2 separate regions of the Homo sapiens genome follow, and region 2 is reported to be linked to region 1. The links are microRNA targets in miRTarBase. Many come from high-throughput screens and were not tested one by one. Region 1 holds a microRNA gene; the other region holds the end of a gene's coding sequence.
What was found. Region 1 holds the annotated microRNA hsa-miR-4765 (UGAGUGAUUGAUAGCUAUGUUC, at 1,220-1,241, opposite strand). A microRNA usually pairs through its seed, bases 2 to 8, with sites in the 3' UTR of a target mRNA and lowers its output. Matches are read on the target gene's strand: a 7mer-m8 pairs with bases 2 to 8, a 7mer-A1 pairs with bases 2 to 7 and ends in A, and an 8mer does both.

Region 1 (4,150 bases):
CCAAATTGGCACAAGAAATGTGAATTAAGGCCAGGCGCAGTGGCTCACACCATAATCCTAACACTTTGGGAGGCCGAGGCGGGTGGATCACCTGAGGTCAGGAGTTTGAGACCACCCTGGCCAACATGGTGAAACCCCGTCTCTACTAAAAATACAAAAATTAGCCGGGCGTGGTGGTGAGCACCTGTAGTCCCAGCTGCTTGGGAGGCTGAGGTGGGAGAATCATTTGAACCCGGGAGGCAGAGACTGCAGTGAGCCGAGATCGCACCACTGCACTCCAGCCTGGGCGACAGAGTGAGACTCCGTCTCAAAACAAAAAAAAAGAAATGCGAATTAAGTACCATTCAAACCACACATCAGTGTTCAGGAGATATTTATGGCTTTGGCTGTTTGGTGGATTTCTAATCTATACTATAGGGCCATAGAAGCCAGAAACTGATTCATACATAATAAGAGAGGGAATGAGATGTTTCCTAAGTACATTTCTAGATAACTGAAGCTTATCTCTTTAACTGCTACAATCATTTAGGGTTTGGGGTTTTTTTACTCCCATTTTGGATGAAAACCTCTGTAGAATATAAATTATAAATTCCCTTCATAGACATAAGACACAAAACATCTTTTAACCTTTCAGTTATAATTAGGATCAGCATTATGGATTAAAATTACTCTAATGAAGTATATATAGTGACTCACTAAGCTGATATGCAAAGAGTTAATTATTGTGGTTTTCACTTTATGCTTGTTTTTGCACTTCTTCTCTTTCTACCCCCCCATCAAATTATTAACACATATCTCTAATAACTCTATTCCACATTTACTTGCTACACCCAATTCTTTTTCTTTTTTCTTTTTTTGAAATGGAGTCTCACTCTGTCACCCAGGCTGGAGTGCAGTGGCGTGATCTTGGCTCACTGCAACCTCCGCCTCCCGGGTTCAAGCAATTGTCCTGCCTCAGCCTCCTGAGTAGCTGGGATTACAAGCGTGCACCACCACACCCGGCTAATTTTTGTATTTTTAGTAAGACGGAGTTTCACCATGTTGATCAGGCTGGTCTTGAACTCCTGACCTCGTGAACCGCCCGCCTTGGCCTTCCAAAGTGCTGGGATTACAGGCATGAGCCACTGTGCCCGGCCTACTTGCTACACCTAATTCTGAGAAACCAGGTAACACTAGGTCTGTTTTGCTGCACGAGTTCTGGATACAATTTGGTGATTTTGAACATAGCTATCAATCACTCAGCTTTTTCCAGGCTGAGTGGTGGATAGCTACGTTCAAAATCACCAAAGTGGCTGGATAAATCAAAGTTCTTACTTTGATTTAAACCATACTTCTTTTGTAGATCATCTCATACTAGCCAGACCCTCTATATAGGAGCTCAAGATTCCTGAGGAACTCAAACTGCAAGCTCTATTGGCGACACACTGGCACAGATCGATAATATTATCTTCACAATGGATAATAATCACCATGAAGCAATGCTGTGCCAGAAACTTTAATAAAGTATTTGTAATTTAAAGCCACCCCTGGGAGCAAACCACTCCTGGGAGCCATTCTTAAGTACAGTATCAAAACTTACCTGCAAGCCGGGAATGGTGGCTCACGCCTGTAAACCCAGCACTTTGGGAGGCTGAGGTGGGAGGATCACTTAAGGTCAGGAGTTTGGGACCAGCCTGGCCAACATGGAGAAACCCCACATCTAGTAAAAATACAAAAATTAGCCAAGTGTGGTAGCACACGCCTGTAATCCCAGCTACTAGGGAGGCTGAAGCAGAAGAATTGCTTGAACCCATGGGGCAGAGGTTGCAGTGAGCTGAGATCGCGCCATTGTACTCCAGCCTGGGTGACAGAGCAAGACTCTGTCTCAAAAAAAATTAATTAATTAATTAGTTAAAAACTTACCTGAAATAAAATTAAACAGATTTCCAGATTTGCTGCTTTGCCATTAAAGATCTTTATGTACAGCGCTCACACCTATAATCCTAGCACTTTGGGAGGCTGAGGCAGGCAGACCACTTGAGCCCAGGAGTTTCAGACCAGCCTGGGCAACATGGCAAAACTCCATCTCTACAAAAAAATTAGCTGGACATGTTGGCATGCAACTGTAGTCCCAACTACTTGGGAGGCTGAGGTGGGAAGATCGCCTGAGCCTGAGTAGGTTGAGGGTGCAGTGAGCTGTAATCCAGCCACTGTACAACAGCCTGGATGACTGAGTGAGATACCATCTCAAAAAAAAAAAATCTTTATGTAACTGAGGTGATACAACCAACTAAACAACTGGTGCAGCTGTCTGTACTTTCATTAAAAAACACAGCTAACACAGCTCCATAAAATGGAGTGTGTATGAAGAGGAGTTTGACAAAGGAACTTCTGGAAATCTGTGAAAATCTGATCAATGAACAAGCATTCTTAGTACTTTTGTGCAAACCATAAAGTCATGTTTCTTTCCTACTATGAGTTCCAGTTTATAAAGACCTGCTTATAAAAAATAAATAACATAATAATAATTACATACAACATTTTCAAGAAGCATACCTCACTGAATTGCTGGAACAAAACAGATGACAAAAAGTCCTGAGGGTGTAAGTCAACAGGGGGCCCCGTCCAGTTGCTCTGAACAAAAAGTTGCAAACTGCTCACACCAAGTAGAAATATCAACTGTTGTCTGCATATAAGAATGGTTAAAGAAATAAATATGAACTACTATCACTGTATAATCTCAAACACACTATTCCATTTCAGTTTTATTAAGAAAATAATATCTATCAACATTTATTGAGACTATCCTAGAGTATTACCAAAAAAAAAAATTTCTAAAACTTAAAACAATTTAGGTTAGCTAGGCACAGTGGTTCATGCCTGTAATTCCAGCACTTTGGAAGGCCACGGTAGGAGGATCATTTGAACCCAGGAGTTCAAAACCAGCCTGAGAAACATAGTGAGACCCTGTCTCTACAAAAAAATTAAAAGTTAGCCGGCATGGTGGTACATCCCAGCTACTCAAGAGGCTGATGCATGAGGATTGCTTGCAGCCCAGGAGTTTGAGGCTGTAGTAAGCTTTGATCATAGCACTGTACTCCAGCCTAGATGATAAAGCGAGACCCTGTCTCTCTTAAAAAAAAAAGAAATTAGGTCTACAATATCCAATATTATAGCCACGAGCCAAACATGGTTTAAATTTGCATTAGTTAAAATTAATAAAATTTATAATTCAGTTCCTTAGTCATACTTTCCATATTTCAAGTGCTCAATAGTTAAGTGTGGCTAGTGGCTACCATGTGGGCAATGAAGATAGAGAGCACTTCTATCTCCACGGAAAATTATCTTGAACGGTGTTGATTTAGGTTCTGATCAGACATCTATAAGTTTTTCTTGCACTCCCTTTAACAGCTCTGATGTTGCAAGATGTATAGAAAACTGACTTTATACAAAAGAAAAGTGATGATATAAAGTTGTTGCTAATTGTTTACCAATCCCATACCACCAAATGCTAGAACAACAACAACAACAAAACATATAGATATTTTAGTGAAAACTCTATTTTTCAGTCTTGCTGTGATGTGAGACAGGGATAGGCAAACTTTTTCTAAATATGAAATATTTTAGGCTTTGCATATCATGTTTGTTTTTTTCCAACCCTTTAAAAATGTAAAACCCATTAATTCTTAGCCACTTAGTTAGCCTGCCAGCCATAATGTGCCAAACCCTAAATTAGGATCTAAATAGGTACAGATCCAACTCTAGCAAATAACAGCCAGGGAATCCTGGAGTTTCATTCTGAAGAGAAAGTATTAGTAATCACTTTTTTCCCCACAGCCCCTAGGCCCTTCCTTAAAAGGAAGAGTCTTTCAGAAAAAGAAAAAAAAAAATCAAACATACAAGCCTATGGTAGCAAAAATATAAAACTCTGGATGCAATGCAAATAAGCAGCATTAGAGAAAAAAGATAACAAAAGAGCTGGTATGCAATCAGAAGTTTGGAAATTTGGAGAAAACAGCCTTAATAAACTGTCCTAATCAAAAAACAAAATCCATAAGGTGAACTGAAAATACACTTTAACTTTCAAATGTCTGAAAATGAGTCAACTGAAATGTCTCTTTTTAGCTTTATGTGACAAGATAGAAATCTGGTATATCAGTGAATAATGCAT
Region 2 (4,000 bases), not on the chromosome of region 1:
TTTTTTCTTTTGCTTTTTCCTTTTATTTTCTTTAACTGGTTTTTTTCTTTTTTTTCCTTTTTTTTTTTAAGACAGAGTCTTGCTCTGTCACCCAGGCTGGAGCGCAGTGGCGCGATCTCGGCTCACTGTAACTGTAACCGCCCAAGGGGTTCACCTTGCCAGCTGTCTAGACAGAGCTGATTCATCAAGACAGGGGAATTGCAATAGAGAAAGAGTAATTCACGCAGAGCTGGCTGTGCGGGAGACCAGAATTTTACTATTACTCAAATCAGTCTCCCCGAACATTCGGGGAGTAGAGTTTTTAAGGATAACCTGGTGGGTAGGGGGAAGCCAGTGAGCCAGGAGTGCTGACTGGTCAGAGATGAAATCACAGGCAGTCGGAGTCAGAGCTGTTTTCTTGCACTGAGTCCTGGGTGGGGGTCACAAGATCAGATGAGCCCGTTTATCCATCTGGGTGGTGCCGGCTGATCCATCAAGGCAGGATCTGCAAAATATCTCAAGCACTGATCTTAGGAGCAGTTTAGGGAGGGTGGGAATCTCGTAGCCTCCAGCTGCATGACTCTAAACCATAATTTCTAATCTTGTGGCTAATGTTAATCCTACAAAGACAGTCTAGTCCCCAGGCAAGAACATCTGCTTTGAGAAAGGGCTGTGACCGTCTTTGTTTAAACTATAAACTAAATTTCTCCCAACGTTAGTTCAGCCTACGCCCAGGAATGAAGAAGGACAGCTTGGAGGCTAGAAGCAAGATGGAGTTGGCTAAGTTAGGTCTCTTTCACTGTCTCAGTCATAATTTGGCAAAGGCAGTTTCACAACTTCCGCTTCCTGGGTTTAAGTGATTCCCCTGCCTCAGCCTTCCGAGTAGCTGGGGTTATAGACGTGCGCCACCACACCAGGATAATGCTTGTGTTTTTAGTAGAGACGAGGTTTTGCCATGTTGCCCTCCCAACACTCCTGGCCTCAAGTGATCTGCGCACCTCGGCCTCCCAATGTGCTGGGATTACAGGCATGAGCCACCACCCGGGGCTGCGCTCATTGTTCATGAATTTGTACAGCTTCATCTCCAGAGCCCTCCTGATCCTTTCCTGGCAGTCATTGGGTGGGGTGAAAGTCCCAACCCTTCAGTCTTTAGGTCTTACTTACCAGCCCCACCCTGAGGCTCCCCCGGGGCTCTACCCTAGACCACTGCATTAGCATAAACTCGGGAGTTCTCTAACAGAGCATATAATGAACGACAAGACACGCCTACCGATCAGGAATTTCCAAAGGTGTTAGCGGCTCCGTGACAGGAACTGGGGACAAACACCAAATCGATTTCTTCTTCTACTACAGAAGATAAACCCCAAATAATCAGCTCCAAGAGGGAAAGGGGCTGCGGGAGGAGGACTGTGATTTTTCTTCTGACAAGCCGCACGGACCCATGAATCCTTAAGCCAGGGGCCTGGCTAATTATCATAAATCAAATTTTGAAAAGTCTAGATAGGATTGATGTTATTCCCCATGCCACACTGGGCCTGTTTGTGGCCCAAAGATTTCTGGGACGCTGGGGGACCCAGGTTGTGTCCTCATCAAGGCTGTTTCTGTTTCAGCAGATCATCCTGGGCTGCATCGCACCCACCCAGTCGTGGGGCTCAGGCTTGCCCCCATCCCTGGTGCATGCCTCTTCGCGGCGGCCAGGTGTGTGTATAGACTATAGGCTGGGGAGGCGCAGGATCTACGCTGCCGGCAACTTCATCTTCCTGCAGCTGCTTCCCAGATCTCCTGCCTCCCAGATGGCCCCGGCTGTTTCCACAACCTGGTCCACCCTCCCTTCTCTCGGGCCGGCACTGGTTGAGGGCTGCGTCGCACGTGCTTCTCACCAAAGCTTCCTAACAGGGACGGTGTGCTCCCCCTCTGACATCGGGGTAACCGGCAGAGGGCCTGCGTGGCTGCAGGTCACAGAGCTGAGGGAGGCAGAGTTGAGATTGAGATCTGGACCGATTCCAGAGCCCTTGGGGAAAGGCCCTCACACTTAGGGGGTCACGGGATCGTCCCTCTAAGGGGGCAGCATTCCCTGCCTGGATCTTGGCCAGGGAGTAGATGTCAGAGAGACCATCCATGCCGGGACCTCCAGAGTGCCTGGCCTGAGATGCAGGAGACCCTGGGGTGAGCAGGGTGGAGTGGCGTCGGACGGTGGCTGCTGATTGGCTGTGTGTCCTTAGGCACATCGCCTTGCCTCTGTGCAGCAGGAACAATGCCTGGCGGGCAGGTGGTTGTGAAGGTTAAATGAAAGTGCCTGGCCCACCCAGCTGCAGCCTGGCCTGTCAGGCTCCAGAAATAGCCCCTGCCAACCCACCTGAACGCCAGCTGCTCCTCTCGGGCCTTCCCTGAGACTATGAAGGCCCGGGGGCAGACGCCAGCTCCCCAGACTGATTTGAAAGGTCAGGGTGGCCTGGAGAAGTTAGCCTGAGGTCAGATCTGCTGATGGGCCAAAGGTCTGAAGGTGCTCAGTCTGGTGAATTCACAGGGGTGGGGAGTGGGGGGCAGGTGGAGACTGGAGGGCTATGACTGGCCTGAAGCCAGAGTTGATGGCGAAACTGAATCCCCCTTACTCTGGTGTCCCAGAAAACATACCCGGGTGAGTTAGGGCTCCAAGGTGGCTGCCTCGGCTGGGAGTGGGGCCTCCCTCCCTGATGCGTCCGCTAGCCCAGCCCCTGCCCAGGGTGGGGAAAGGGGTTGGCAACTCAGGCCCATGCAAAGAGGGTTCCTTTCCTGTCCTCCCACCACCGTTGGGTCCTGGAAGGCGGGAGTTCAGCACCTTGGAGAGGGGACAGCCCTGGTCCTCGCAGTCCCTGGTGGGGTGCCCACACTTGCTTTCTCAATTTGTCCACATAGGGGGCGGGGCATGGTGGGAATTTGAACCCAAGTCTGAATGCCGGGTGGAGTCAGGGCACAGTCACTGGGCCAGTGTTAAGCTCCTGATGTGCTTAAAAAGGCCGAAGGTAACCAGCCCCGCCACCCCTTCCTGTATTTGCCCTGGAGTACCTGGATGGGACCTGACTTACACCTGTGAGTGTCCCCAATTTTTCTGAGAATGCTCCCGGGCAGCCCCACCCTGATCTCACCCACCCCACTGCCCTGGGGGGCTGTCACCAGTGGCCTTGTGAAGGGCTTGGTAAAAGGACAGCTAAGTCAGCTTCCCAGGACAGCTCTGGGTCCCACGTGACGACTGCGGTGACCCTCTGTGCCCCAGGCTATCCACGATGGCCCGCCTGCAGCCTCAGCCCTGCAGCAGACACTTGGGGGTCAGCCAGCAAGGCCTCTGCAGACCCTCACCCCAGAGGCACCCAATGGTGAATGTGGCCCTGCCTGGGCCCAGCCAAGGTCAGGAGACACAGGACTCCAATCTTTGCTATAAATACACGTGTTTGGTGAGTGAGGGGCAACAGAAGGCAGAGAGATGGCGCTGTACACAGCTGGTATAGGCTTGGAGGTGGAACGCCAGAGAGACAGACACACAGACAGTCCGCCCAGCAGGGCAGGCCGGGCAGCATTCTGGGGCTTGTAACACTTGGTTGGTGGGCGAGAGCCAGCAGGAGGTCCGGCCCGGGGCTGGAGGGGCCGAGGCACCCCGCAGGCTCCAAGGTCCGAGGTCCTGGGTGGCATCAGTGGTGGCGCCTGGGCTCAGCTCACATCATTCAGGGCCTGGAGGGACATGAGGCCAGTCAGGAGGGCGCTCTGGGTCCCTGGGTCCCACCACCCAGCCCCGCAGGCCACCCACCTTGCGGGCAAACTCGGGCAGCACAAAGGCGGCGCGGTGCACGTCGGAGTTGTAGTACTTCAGCTGCATCTGCGCCACCTGCTGCTGTGTCAGCGGCTGCACCGGCTCCTGGAAGTTCGTGCTCTGGGGACCGGGCCAGGGGCACATCAGGGGGGGCACTTTTTTTTTTTTTTTTTTGAGACGGAGTCTCACTGTTGCCACGCTGGAGTGCAGTGGCGTCATCTCAGCTCACTGCAACCT

Region 2: the mRNA of SRM is a reported target of hsa-miR-4765. Seed matches in the 3' UTR shown: 7mer-A1 at 3,412-3,418.

Annotation. Positions count from the first base shown.
Region 1 is chr2:32,632,391-32,636,540 of GRCh38, reverse strand. It overlaps MIR4765 (microRNA 4765), which reads right to left and starts at 1,286; the gene lies at 1,210-1,286. It overlaps TTC27 (tetratricopeptide repeat domain 27), which reads right to left. Exons shown (of 20, transcript NM_017735.5): 3 at 2,536-2,665.
Region 2 is chr1:11,051,202-11,055,201 of GRCh38, forward strand. It overlaps SRM (spermidine synthase), which reads right to left. Exons shown (of 8, transcript NM_003132.3): 7 at 3,761-3,883; 8 at 3,388-3,684. The coding sequence ends at 3,664. Among named protein-coding and RNA genes, the nearest start is that of MASP2, 6.0 kb to the left of the region's middle. RefSeq lists enhancers at 867-946, 1,554-1,633, 1,964-2,213.